2 separate regions of the Homo sapiens genome follow, and region 1 is linked to region 2. Evidence: fine-mapped expression QTL. Tissue or cell type: whole blood. Region 2 holds a variant in brackets; the other region holds the start of a gene. All regions are shown on one strand. Distances are from middle to middle.

Region 1 (5,000 bases), 34 kb before region 2:
ACTCACAGTTGAATCACAATTCTGCATGGCTGGGGCAGCCTTAGGAAACTTACAATCATGGCAGAAGGCACTTCTTGACAGGGTGGTAGGAGACAGAATGAGTGCTGAGCAAAAGGAGAAGCCCCTTATAAAACCATCAGATCTCATGAGAACTCACGCGCTCTCATGAGAACAGCATAGGGGAAACTGCCCCCATGATTCAATTATCTTCACCTGGTCCTGCCCTTGACATATGGGTATTATTATAATTCAAGATGAGATTTTGGGCAGGGACACAGCCAAACCATATCAGCTCCTAACAGCCACTGTGTCAAAGTGCCCAGGTGTGGTAACATGAAGGAGCCATAGAATATGTGCAGCATGCAGTTCACTTTAATCTCATCAGAGAAAAAAGCTGTCTTCACCATCCCTACATTTTTTCATATCAATCAAAAGCAGTAATTCATGAAGAGGAAGAGATAAATTTGAATAGAAGTAATGGAGAGGCTCTCAGATTGTTGGATGAGTCAACTAATGAAGAGTAAATCTTATTAATACATTGGGAAAAGCTTTAATTTCCTTGCTAATTTGTCATAGTTTATAGGCATCAGTGAAGATATTATAAACTCAATACACAACCAGAAGGAGGACATCAATAACAAACTGATTAATAAATGTCATCAATTTAACAAGTAATATTGCTGATTAGTCATAGCACAATAAAATGTGAAATGCCCTAAGATCTTATAACTTTTTTTTTTTTGAGATGGAGTCTTGTTCTGTCACCCAGGCTGGAGTGCAGTGGTGAGATCTCGGCTCATTGTGACCTCCGCCTTTTGGGGTTCAAGGATTCTTGTGCCTCAGCCTCCTGAGTAGCTGGGATTACAGGTGTGCAACACCGTGCCTGGCTAATTTTTGTATTTTTGTAGAGCCAAGGTTTCACCATGTTGGTCCGGCTGGTCTCGAACTCCTGACCTCAAGTGATCTGTCCACCCCAGCATCCCAAAGTGCTGGGATTACAGGTGTGAGCCACCGTGCATGGCCAGATCTTATAATTCTTACATGAAAGAAATGTAATAGTGATTTCCTCTAATATGACAATAGTCCTAAACCTTTACATGACACTTTCAAGAACAAATTATTAGATGGTGTAGGTGGTCCTTGAATGAATGAACCATGAGATACCCTAGAGCAGGGGTGTCCAATCTTTTGGCTTCCCTGGGCCACATTGGAAGAAGAATTGTCTTGGGCCACACATAAAATACACTAACACCAGCAATTGTTGATGAGCTAAAAAAAAATTGCAAAAAAAAAAAAACTCATAATGTTTTAAGAGAGTTTATTAATTTGTGTTGGGCTGCATTCTAAACTGTCTTGGCTGCATGCAGCCTGCAGGTGTGGGCCAGGGGTTGGACAAGTTTGCCATAGAGCGTGGCTTGGTTGGATGAGGGTGCTAGAATTCAGAGGACGGTCACTGTGCAGTGAGAGTTGTCTTGGCTGTAGGACTGGAGTTGGTAAAATGAAAAAAAGAAAAAACTAGTTTTGCATGAAAGAATGTTTCCAGCATATGAATGTCCCACCACACTTTTAGTTAGTCTTGGCTGTACATGTTGCAATAAGTCAAGGAACCCTACAAAGTAGGATGGAAGGATTCAAACTGCGAATCGCTTGAACCCGGAAGGCGGAGTTGGAGTTTGCAGTGAGCCGAGGTTGAGCAACTGCACTCCAGCCTGGGCGACAGAGTGAGACTCCGTCTAAAAAAAAAAAAAAAAAAAAAGATTCAAACTGCTTTTGAAAAAAGTAAAAATGCAGGGTTATATTTTAGAAATAGTGCAGCCAATCATTAGTGGCTATTCCTAATATGTCAATTTCGGGTCTATAGAAGACCTACCTAGAGGCCAGCAACTATTAATTGATGCTTATAGCACCTAATGAAACTGCCCTTGCCTTTGAAGCCCCCATTTAGCTAAGGGGATGGGATGTGAATTTAGAATAGGACGTGAAAAGTGCAAAATGCTCCCGGACTCAGATCGGATAAACCTCTTCTAGGCTGTCTTTCTCTTCTGAAGCCACAGTTTTGATGCTTTCCCTAATTCAGAGCAGGCTTTCCCGGAGTCTCTGACTCAGAGCAGCCCGAGCCACCGTGAGGACCGCCCACCTGCAGGGGGCGCGCCGGGGGCTGCAGCGCGAGACCGCTCTGGCCCAGCGGGGACTCCGACTACCCCTGTCTGGCCCCTCCCCTCCGCCCGTCACCGCCTCCTTGAAGCTGCCGCTGTCGCTGCTGCTCGTTCGAGTCGCAGGTACTTGGCCCGGGGCCTGTGGGCAGCGCCTGGGCTAGAGCCACTTGATATCTCCTGCACCGTCCCTGTAGCACTGGAGGTCCAGTAGGCCTGGCCGGGGCCCTGAGGGGCGAGGGTGCCCGGGCTTCCCACACCTTCCGCGGCGACTGGAGGGAGCCGGGCCGAGGAAGCGACCGCGGGTCCGTGATGGCTTCTTCGCGGTCTGTGTGTTCACGAGGGCCGGGCAGAGGCCTGCGAGGGTTCTCGTTTGCGCTTGCGGGTTAGGGCTGTGGTCCGGGGAACCCCTGGGCAGCGCGGGCAGCCCTGGCTCGCGGTTAATCGGGGGGTGGAGCGCGGAAGCCACGCCGCAGGTCCAGCTGCTCGGCCGGGGCGAGACGGTGCTTTCGCGGCGTGTGCTTGCAGGAGCGCACAGTTCAGGCGCCGGGACAAGCTGTTGGGGTGTGAGTGAGCTCTCCAGAATGGCACATGGCTCCGGGGTGCCCGGGTTAAAAGGAAGGATTTGCACACCTTCCACTTAGGGCTCGGGTAATCGCAAACTTCCTCCCTTAATTGGCTTGCAGTGCTAAAAAGCAGATCGTTCTCTCTGAGGTTTTCCCAACAGTACCTCAAGAAAATAACATCTGTTTTTTGTAACGTTCCACGGTATTCGGAATTGGCTACAGAACATAATAAGGTAAAAATATGCCATTGAATAGTAGCGCTTCTCAATCTTTAAAAAATGACGGTGGTACCTAGGAGCCTCTTAAAGAGCTGTAATATGAGTGGTGTGGGGATTATTTTTATGTTCTAGTAATAGCTATTTTCAGTGCTTATTTTATGTCAGACACGGTGCCATTGCTTTAAATACCTGGTACCTTTAATCCTTGAAGCAACCCTATCAGGTACCATTTCCATTATACAGATAAGGAAACTGAGGCACCGAGAGTCTGACTTCTCCAAGGTCAGAAAGCTAGCAAAGGCTGAGCGAGATTTGGTCTCATCTCCCTTACTTCAGTATCCCTGCGTCTGTTATCTAGCCAAACATGTAGCGCTGTCTAAGAGTTTTATCAATTAGATTTGTAGCCTGAACTGATTTCTCTCAGGCTTAGTTTTCATGGTTATATGCAGGAGTCCTACATGAACTCCTTTTTAGTTTAAAAGGAGTTTAGTAAGAAAACTGTTAGCTCATTAAGGACTATAGTGATAATAAAGTTAAACTTGGACTGGGGTTCTCACTGTGCCAGTACAATTTGATTTGAAATAGAGATGAATTTGTTTGGTTGTTAACACACTTTATTACATTTCTTCATTATTTATGTTTCCATACCATTTTTTAGTGAGTTCACTTTGCCTTTGCATTATTATGGTAGCAGTACCAGAGGGAAATCAAAGATTTTTTGATGATAGTAAGTTAATATTTTACAGAATACAGGAAAGGCACTGGAGAGAGGATGTGAAGTGATAAGGAATTTTTGGCATGTTATATAAATTGTGTTACTATGGAAAACAAAGGATTCTCACAGTTCTTTATCAAAAGGGAAATTGTATTTCCCATTGTGGAAATAAGTTGGGCTTTATAGTCCCAAACTTCTTAGCCTTACCTATTATAGATTTAAGAATTTGCATATTCGGCATTCATATAGCAAGCGTATATTGAGTGCCTTCTATGGCCAGGCTCTGTTCTAAGCACTGGGGGATGTGAGAGTGAACAAAATGAAGTCCTTGTCTTCCAGGAGCTAACATGTCACTGGAGGAAGGTGGGGTTGGGGACGATAAGCGGGATTTGTGAAAGTTAACGTATCTGGAGTCAGATGGTAACAGTTACTAGGAATAAAAATAAAGTAGCAAAGGGGGATAGGAAGCACCAAGGAAGGAACAGGTGCAGTTTTAAAATAAGGACTGGTGCCATGGAAAAGACTCAAGCAAAACTGAAGGCGTTGGGGACCGCCATGCAGCTGTCTAGGGAAAGAGCATACCAAGCAAGGGCAAAAGCCCAGAACCCTTCAGTCTTGTTAGAGGGACAGCAAGAGAGGAACAGCAAGGAGGCCAGTAGATTTGAGCACCTGGAGGGAAGGAGGGTGAGACAAGGTCAGAGAGCTAATGGGCCCAGGTAAGGACTTTTGCTTTTACTCTGAGTGAGAAGGGAGGTGTTTGGAGGGTTTTGAGCAGAGGAATGAGGGGATCTGGCTTAAGGTTTTTAAAGGATCACTCTGGCTGCTGTGTTCAGTGTTGACTGTAAGGGCAAGGATGGAAGCAGGGAGACCTGTTAGGTTGATGCAGTAATTGAAGCCAGAGAGAATGGTGGCTTAGACCAGGTGGGTAGTAAGAGAGGCAGTAAGAAGCCGTCGTATTCTGAGTATTGCTGATAGGATTTGCTTATGGTTTGGATGTGCTTATGAGAGAAAGGGTGAAGCACGACCCTGTGGCCTTTGGCCTGAGCTATTGGAAGGCTTTAGTTAAACAGTGTACTGAGATGGAGAAGACTGAGTGTGAAGGTAGGTGGAGCCAGTTTTAGTCAGGTTTGAGATGCCTGTTCAAGTGGGGTTATAGAGACGGGAGTTGAAGAGAAAGGTCCAACTGGAAATAGAAATTTGGGAAGTCACTAATGCAAGCTTGTGCAACCCAAATTTGTAAACTTACTTAAAACATTATGAGATTGATTGTATTTTTTTTTAAGCTCATCAGCTATCGTTATATGTGTGCCCCAAGACAGTTATTCCACTGTGGCCCAGGAAAGCCAAA
Region 2 (7,183 bases):
ATTTATCCACTTTTTTGACTATATGTTCTCTTTTTTCTTTTCCCTGGAAGTAAAAAAAAAAAAAAAAAGAAAAACAAGGGTTAATTCAAAATTCAGCTACACTGGATGTTTGGCTCAGCTCTGGGTTTTACTTTTGAGTTAAACTGGACCCATCCTTTTTTTCCCCTTGGTGATTTGTTCTTCATAAACACTTTCTATAGTACAATTCAGAAAAAAATAGAGGCACACGGCTATTACTTCTACCATAATCTGCTGTTGAGGAGACATTCAGTGTGAGGATGGGGTCTGGAGGTGGGGGACGTGTTTGGTTAACAGGATAACGGCCTCTGTGATGAACTGTGCAAAAATCCCATCAGTCAACATCTGATTGCAGCCAGATGGTCAAGGCTCATGGTGGAAGAGTTGTAGTGAGCCAAATACTCCTTTAGTTCCCCACAGCCCTAGGGTAGGCCCTAATTGGGCCCATTCTTTCTTCACTGAGATCTATATAAGTGGGTACTAAAAATGGAACTGACAATGTAGTATAACTGCTATGATGGCTTCTTTATTTTTATAAACTTTTTTTTTTTTTTTTTTTTTTAGCAATCATCAAGGTGCTACCCCTTTAGTTCTGGCAAAGCGCAGAGGAGTAAATAAAGATGTCATCCGATTGCTGGAATCTTTGGAAGAACAGGAGGTGAAAGGATTTAACAGAGGAACCCACTCGAAACTGGAGACCATGCAAACAGCTGAGAGTGAAAGGTACTGGAGATACAACTTTTTTTTTCTCACTGTATTACTCATTCCTTGAACTCCTGGGCTCAAGCATTCTTCCTGCCTCAGCCTCCTGACTAGCTGGGACTATAGGCACATGTAGCCACACCCAGCAAGATAATACGATTTTTTAAGGGGAAAGTCACTTTAAGTATGTGGATTTATGGTTAACTTTGTGAACTTTAATATTCATTTGCTTTTAAGTGCAACTTGAACTTTATATAGGACCTTATGACTGCAGATTACAATTGAGAAGCTATTAACAGAAAGTACTACATGTCATGTGCGCATAATGTTCTGTTAGCCACCTGCTGTATTGACAGTACAAAGGAGAAATAGTAACAAATGAATCTGAGGGGAGGAAGCCGGAGCTTGATGATTTTAAGTACAGGTCACAAAAAGAATGGAATTTCAAAAAAAAGAGAAGTATAAGTAAAGCCAAGAACTTGGGCAATTTTAGAAAAGACTGAAAGGTAGTTTCAAGGGTAGGGAAGTGGAATGCTGAGAAACAAGAAAACAAGAGAGGGAAAGCAAGATAGTATTTAACACATGCACAGTTCAGTAATGTGAAAGTGAAAGTGACTTTCATATGAGTTGGAGCTAATGAAATTTGGATTCCTGTGAGTAATCGAAGCTAAGATGTGGTAACTGACAGGGTCTTGAATAGCTCATCATTTCTCATCTAGAAGCAATGGAGAATGCAGTTCAGAGAGCTCCAAAAAGGTGGCGCACCATCTTTTCTCCTGATGTCACTGGGCTCAACAGGTAAAGTTAATAGGCCAGACTTAGTTCTAGTAGCATATTATCTGGTTGACCACCATGCAGTTTCAGCCTTCCACATTATACGTGTGAAGGAAAAAGGATGCTGAGCTTCCATAGCCTCTTCCCAGTATTCTCGGTAGGTTGTAAATAGAATAAGCAAGGGCCCACATCAGCTGTTTACCTAGTAGCTGATGGACTAGGACTTGGATTTAGAATCACATAATCCACTTAGACCATTGGGATCATTGTTTCTGTGAGTTCTAAATGAAATCCTCTCTGTTTTTCATAGCTTACCCTTCATTTGATTCCTTTGTACCCATTTTTGCTTTCCTCCTCTCGTGTGCCAGATGATGTGCTCTTTGGGGACCATTAATTCCACTCTCAAGCTTAGGTCTATTTTGTTCAGATACTTTCAAGCACTTTAATACAGTCCTAAAGAAATCCAAGAGCTTTACTTCTGGAACAGTGCATACTCCTCTTGAGTGATCACTGAAAGCTGACAAATAGATAATCAAGAAGTCAGAGATGTATTTGCAAGCCCTTGTTTTTCTCTCCTCTGTACTTTGGATTGACAGAATGGCATAAGCACTTTAACAATATTGAGTTAACTATTATTTGTTAAAGATTTTTTCCTCTAAGATAACTTGAAATTTATTTTTATCTTTTTATGAAATAACATTAAGTACTTTAAGCTTCTTTACCATGAAAAACAACCAAGAATGTGTTCTTGTTTGGTATATTTTTAGGATCTTTATTTTGTTAATAGCCAGTTTCTTGGCACCCTTTTATTAGAAATATACTTTTAGCATTAGTTTGCCTCAGTTGTGATTACTTACTAAGAAGTGATAAGTACAAAATAATATTCCATTGGATGAGCAGTGGAAGTACTCCTGCTTCCTTCACATACCTGCCATTTCACTGCAGCATGAGAGTTTGTATTAATTGTAACACTGTATAAAGCTCGTTTTTCAAAAATTGAGTTATTAACACTTTTATTACCTAGTTTTCCTATCTTACTCCTACCCCTCAGTGTCATGGTAGAAATTCAGTGGTTGAAGCTTAAATCAGAAAGTTGAAAGGTAATGTCATTAGGAAAATGCAAATGAGGACCATAGTGAAATGCCACTTCACACCCACTAGGATAGCTGCAATTAAAAAGATAGATAATAACAAGTGCTCTGGAGGATGTGGAGAAATTGGAACCCTCATACACTGCTGATGGGAATGGAAAGTAGAGCAGCTTCTTTGGAAAAGTCTGGCAGTCCTTCAAAAAGCTACACGTAGAGTTACCATCTGACCAGCAGTGCCACTTCTAGGAATATACCAAAGAAAATTGAAACATATGTCCACACAAAACTTATATATGAATGTTCATAGCAGCATTATTCATAATAGCCAAAACATTGATACCACCCAGATATCCATCAGCTGATGAAGGAATAAACATCATCTGTTCATCCAATGGAATATTACTAATATTATTATATTATACTGATACATGCTACAGCATGGATAAATTTTGAAAACATGCTACATTGGAGAAGCCAGGCACAAAAGGCCACATATTACATGATTCTGTTTATGTGAAATGTCCAGAATAAGCAAATCCATAGAGACAGAAAGTAGATGAGAAAGTAGACTAGAAGCTGGGAGAAGGGGCAATGGGAGTGACTGCTAATAGGTACAGAGTTTCTTATAGAGGTGCTGAAAGTGTACTGGAATTAGAAGAGATGGTTGTACAATTTGGGGAATATATGAAAAGCCACTGAATTGTACAGTTTCAAAAGGTAAATATTATGGGATGTGAATTATGTCTCAATAAATGTAGATGAAAAAGTTTAAAGAGATTGGCTAGCACATGGCATTATGGCATAATTGTGTAATGGCTTTTTCTAGAGCAGAAGATAAAGCAGGGTTTTAAATGTATTTACTATAATATTTTCCATTTCTCTTAGGATTCCCCCAAGACAGCACAACTTCTGCAGGCCTTATAAGGGACTATAAATCAAGTTAATGAAAAATATTTCCCCACTCCTCCATATAACTCTAAGTTTAATTCCTTTTTACTTTGTAGGTATGGGATAACAAAAACAGTATAGCTATCACATTTTTTAAAAAAGATACATGCAAACACACCCCCCAAAGACAGTGTAGATATCACGTTTTTAAAAAAAGATTATACACACACCCCATTATGTTAGAATCAGATATTCCCTGGACAGTAGAAAGCATTTCATTGGATAAAGTCTTTATAGAATATCCCGATTGGCAGAGCTTCATGAGCTCTGAAGAACAATGAGAATGCTCATGGAATTTTC[A/G]TTTTATACCTAACATGTATAAGGGCATGTCAACTCGTAATCAATAAATTTTACATAGGTCAAACTAAGCCTCTGCAGAACTGTGTTATCTATTTGTGGTTTTACTCTTTTAGGCCTTCTCAAAGTTCTAATCTTATTTTTAAACTTGCTGTCAAGTGTTCCAAAATTACTGTGGTGTTGTAGATTCCCACTGAAAACATCATCTCTTATTCAGAGAATAAACATGTTTTAATTATTAAAAAAAAAAAAGTTTGGGTGTTAAGCAGACTGGCCCATTAGGAAGTCAGTTTCCCATGATCAGAGAAGACCTCTAATGTTGGTAAAGGCTGAAGGACTTTTGTTTGATGGTATCAAGAAGTAAAATAAAGTTGTAGGTTAAAAAATGTCAGTTTTGCATGTTTATTCATAGTTCATAATGAATGAGACTCTAAGATACTGTTTTATGGGAGTTAGGAAGGATAGTAATGAACTTTGATAACCAGTAGATAGTTGATTCCTATGATCATGGTTATGGTGGCTTTAATCTAAATGATACCCTCTTATTGGGCCTGTATGTTGTGATATAACCATGAGTGCTCTTCCCTTAGTGCTTCCAAGTACCAAAGTCAGATGCAGTTTCTCTTTGTGGTAGTCGTATTTCTCATTGATAAAGTTCTGAAAACCAGAATCAGTGTTTTTATGGTATTTGCACTACCTTATTTTCAACTAGACTAGCCTTTATGCAGAAGAGAAATGAACATATTCTGTCTTACTGTACAAGATAGAACTAACACCAATAGGAAGAAACTATTAAGAATTCCTAATGACTAGGCCAGCTGTGGTGGCTCATGCCTGTAATCCCAGCACTTTGGGAGGTCAAGGCAGGTGGATCACCTAAACTCAGGAGTTCAAGACCAGCCTGGGCAACATGGCGAAACCCTGTCTCTACCAAAAATACAAAAATTAGCCAGCCATGGTGGCATGCACCTGTAGTCCCAGCTACCTGGGGGGCTGAGGCAGGAGGATTGCTTGAGCTGGGGAGGTGGAGGTTTCAGTGAGCTGAGATCGCATCACTGTATTCCAGCCTGGGCGGCAGAGTGAGATTCTGTCTCCAAAAAAAAAAAAGAATTTCTGATGACTAGACGAGTCCACATGTACAACAGGCTGAGGAGTAACCTTCCATTATTAGAGAATTACAATTAAAGAAGGAATTCCTTCATTGGTCAGATTATTGAACTAAATTAATAAAAATTCCCTTTTAACTTCAAGATTCACACACACTGTATAAGTGACTTTTTAGATTTACTCATCTTCCCCCCTCCCCCCAACAGACATTTACTTTCTCAGTTCTAGGGCCTAGAAGTCTGAGATCAAGGTGTCACAAAGTTGGTTTCTTCTAAGGCCTCTCTGCTTGACTTGTAGATGACTGTCCTCTTCAGGTGTCATCACCTGCATGTCTGCTTATTCGTATTAACACATTCTTAAATTATGAGTCTGCACTTTGAATCTTCTAAATTTAACATAACAAGAATGTGTTGTGGTTTAATATCTTGATGGAGACAACTCATAACCTATTTCAAGACTTCTGCTCAGGACACCTTAAAAAAAAATAGAGATGGTGTCTCGCTATGTTACCCAGGCTGGTCCCGAACTCCTGGGCTCAAGTGATCCTCCCTCCTTGGCCTGCAAAAGTGTCGGGATTACAGGCATGAGCTACCACGCCCAGCCAGGACCTTTTAAATAGAATTTTTAACTTGAGTTTACTAAATTCTAAACCAAGAGAAACATACTCATTACCATTTAGCAATTTACAGTTTAGTATATATTGTTCAGATACGTAAGCATGTAAGAGTGTGTATATATATATATGTGTGTGTGTGTGTGTGTGTGTGTGTGTGTGTGTGTGTGTATTTGGTCTTTTCTAAATAGTAGCCCTGTGGTTTTATGTTTTTGGAATTGCTGTGTTTTTTTAATGCCCTTTTTGCTCTTTCTTCTTCCACAGTGCCATGGAAAGCCATTCACTCCTCAATCCCAACCTGCAGCAAGGTGAAGGAGTCCTCTCCAGCTTCCGAACCACGTGGCAGGAGTTTGTGGAGGATCTGGGCTTCTGGAGAGTATTGCTGTTGATCTTCGTCATTGCTTTGCTGTCTCTTGGCATTGCTTATTATGTGAGTGGGGTGCTACCCTTCGTGGAAAACCAGCCTGAACTGGTGCATTAAAGGAGCTCATGGAAGATGAGGCAATTAATTGCCTGTTTCCTGGCTTCCAATGTTTGTTCTCAGTTTCTCAGAATTTTTCTTAGCGCAAAGCAGTGAGGGCAGTACATGTTCTTTTTGCATTTTTAATTATTGTAATCCTTTTAGATAATGATGTGTTCATTTGAACTAACTACATACTATGATCAAGTATATTGCATCCTAACGCTACCTCTGACTCAACCTGACTTTGTAGGAAAGCCTACACGTAGCCTTGTTTGATAAAAACACGGAAGTGACTAGAGAATGGAAGATAAAGGAAGAAGCTAGGAAGTCCTTGCTATCAAAACCTTATCCTAATATAGGACCAATTGAAGTATTCAAAAAGAAAAACAGTATCTTATATGATTAGTTTTTGTTGGTGGTTTTGTTTTCATTTATTTTTGCAAGAGCCACTTTTTATTTACTTTCTCTAGGGATAAGAGATAAAACTTGAAGTACTTTTTTCAAATCTTGTGTGCAAATTAGTATTGTTAGCATCTATTTGGCTTATTTTAGTATTTTTAAGTCTAGTCACAAACCAAACAAAACTTTTGAAAATGAGCTATATTTTGTTCAAAGATAATTGATTTGATCTTATATTTATTTGTTTTTAGGATAATTTTTGATCTTTTTGTAAACTGCTTTGCTTGTTAATATCTGTGAAAAATAAATGAGTTCATTTTGTTCACTTTCCAATTTTCCCGAGTATCCTAGTCATCAAAGATAACAGTTCATCAGAATTACAGTCAGAAAATCCTTTTTCTACTGAATAGTTAGCAGGGAAAAATAATTCTGATATTTAACTGTCATAATTCTGTAGTGCTATTATAGTGAAAAACTCAGTTCTATAAGCTAGCTGTGTTGTCACAGTTTTATCATAGTTCATAATTATTTCATGTGCAATCCTATTTGGAGGCCCTGTTAGACTTTTAACAATCCCATCCATATCTGTAATTCTCTGATGGCAAGAATGGATGGAGCATTTCTGAGTTAACAGTGCTGGACAGTATCGTACTGGGTGTCATAAACTCTTTATGAATGGTAATATTATGTAAATTGAAATCTGGCCCTCAAACTATATTGCAGCTTTCAGCAGTATGTTTGAAGGCCTCTTTTGTTAATGATTCTGTAATG

What was found. PIP is the estimated chance that this variant, and not a neighbour inherited with it, causes the effect.
Region 1: it holds the start of ANKRD46, and the variant in region 2 is fine-mapped to the expression of ANKRD46 in whole blood (TOPMed, PIP 0.93).

The regions. Positions count from the first base shown.
Region 1 is chr8:100,556,990-100,561,989 of GRCh38, reverse strand. It overlaps ANKRD46 (ankyrin repeat domain 46), which reads left to right and starts at 2,231. Exons shown (of 5, transcript NM_001270377.2): 1 at 2,231-2,279. RefSeq lists enhancers at 1,928-2,067, 2,035-2,329 and a silencer at 2,068-2,237.
Region 2 is chr8:100,521,403-100,528,585 of GRCh38, reverse strand. It overlaps ANKRD46 (ankyrin repeat domain 46), which reads left to right. Exons shown (of 5, transcript NM_001270377.2): 4 at 583-741; 5 at 5,815-7,183. The coding sequence ends at 6,031. Among named protein-coding and RNA genes, the nearest start is that of ANKRD46, 35 kb to the left of the region's middle. The variant A/G (reference allele first, on the strand shown) is at 3,834.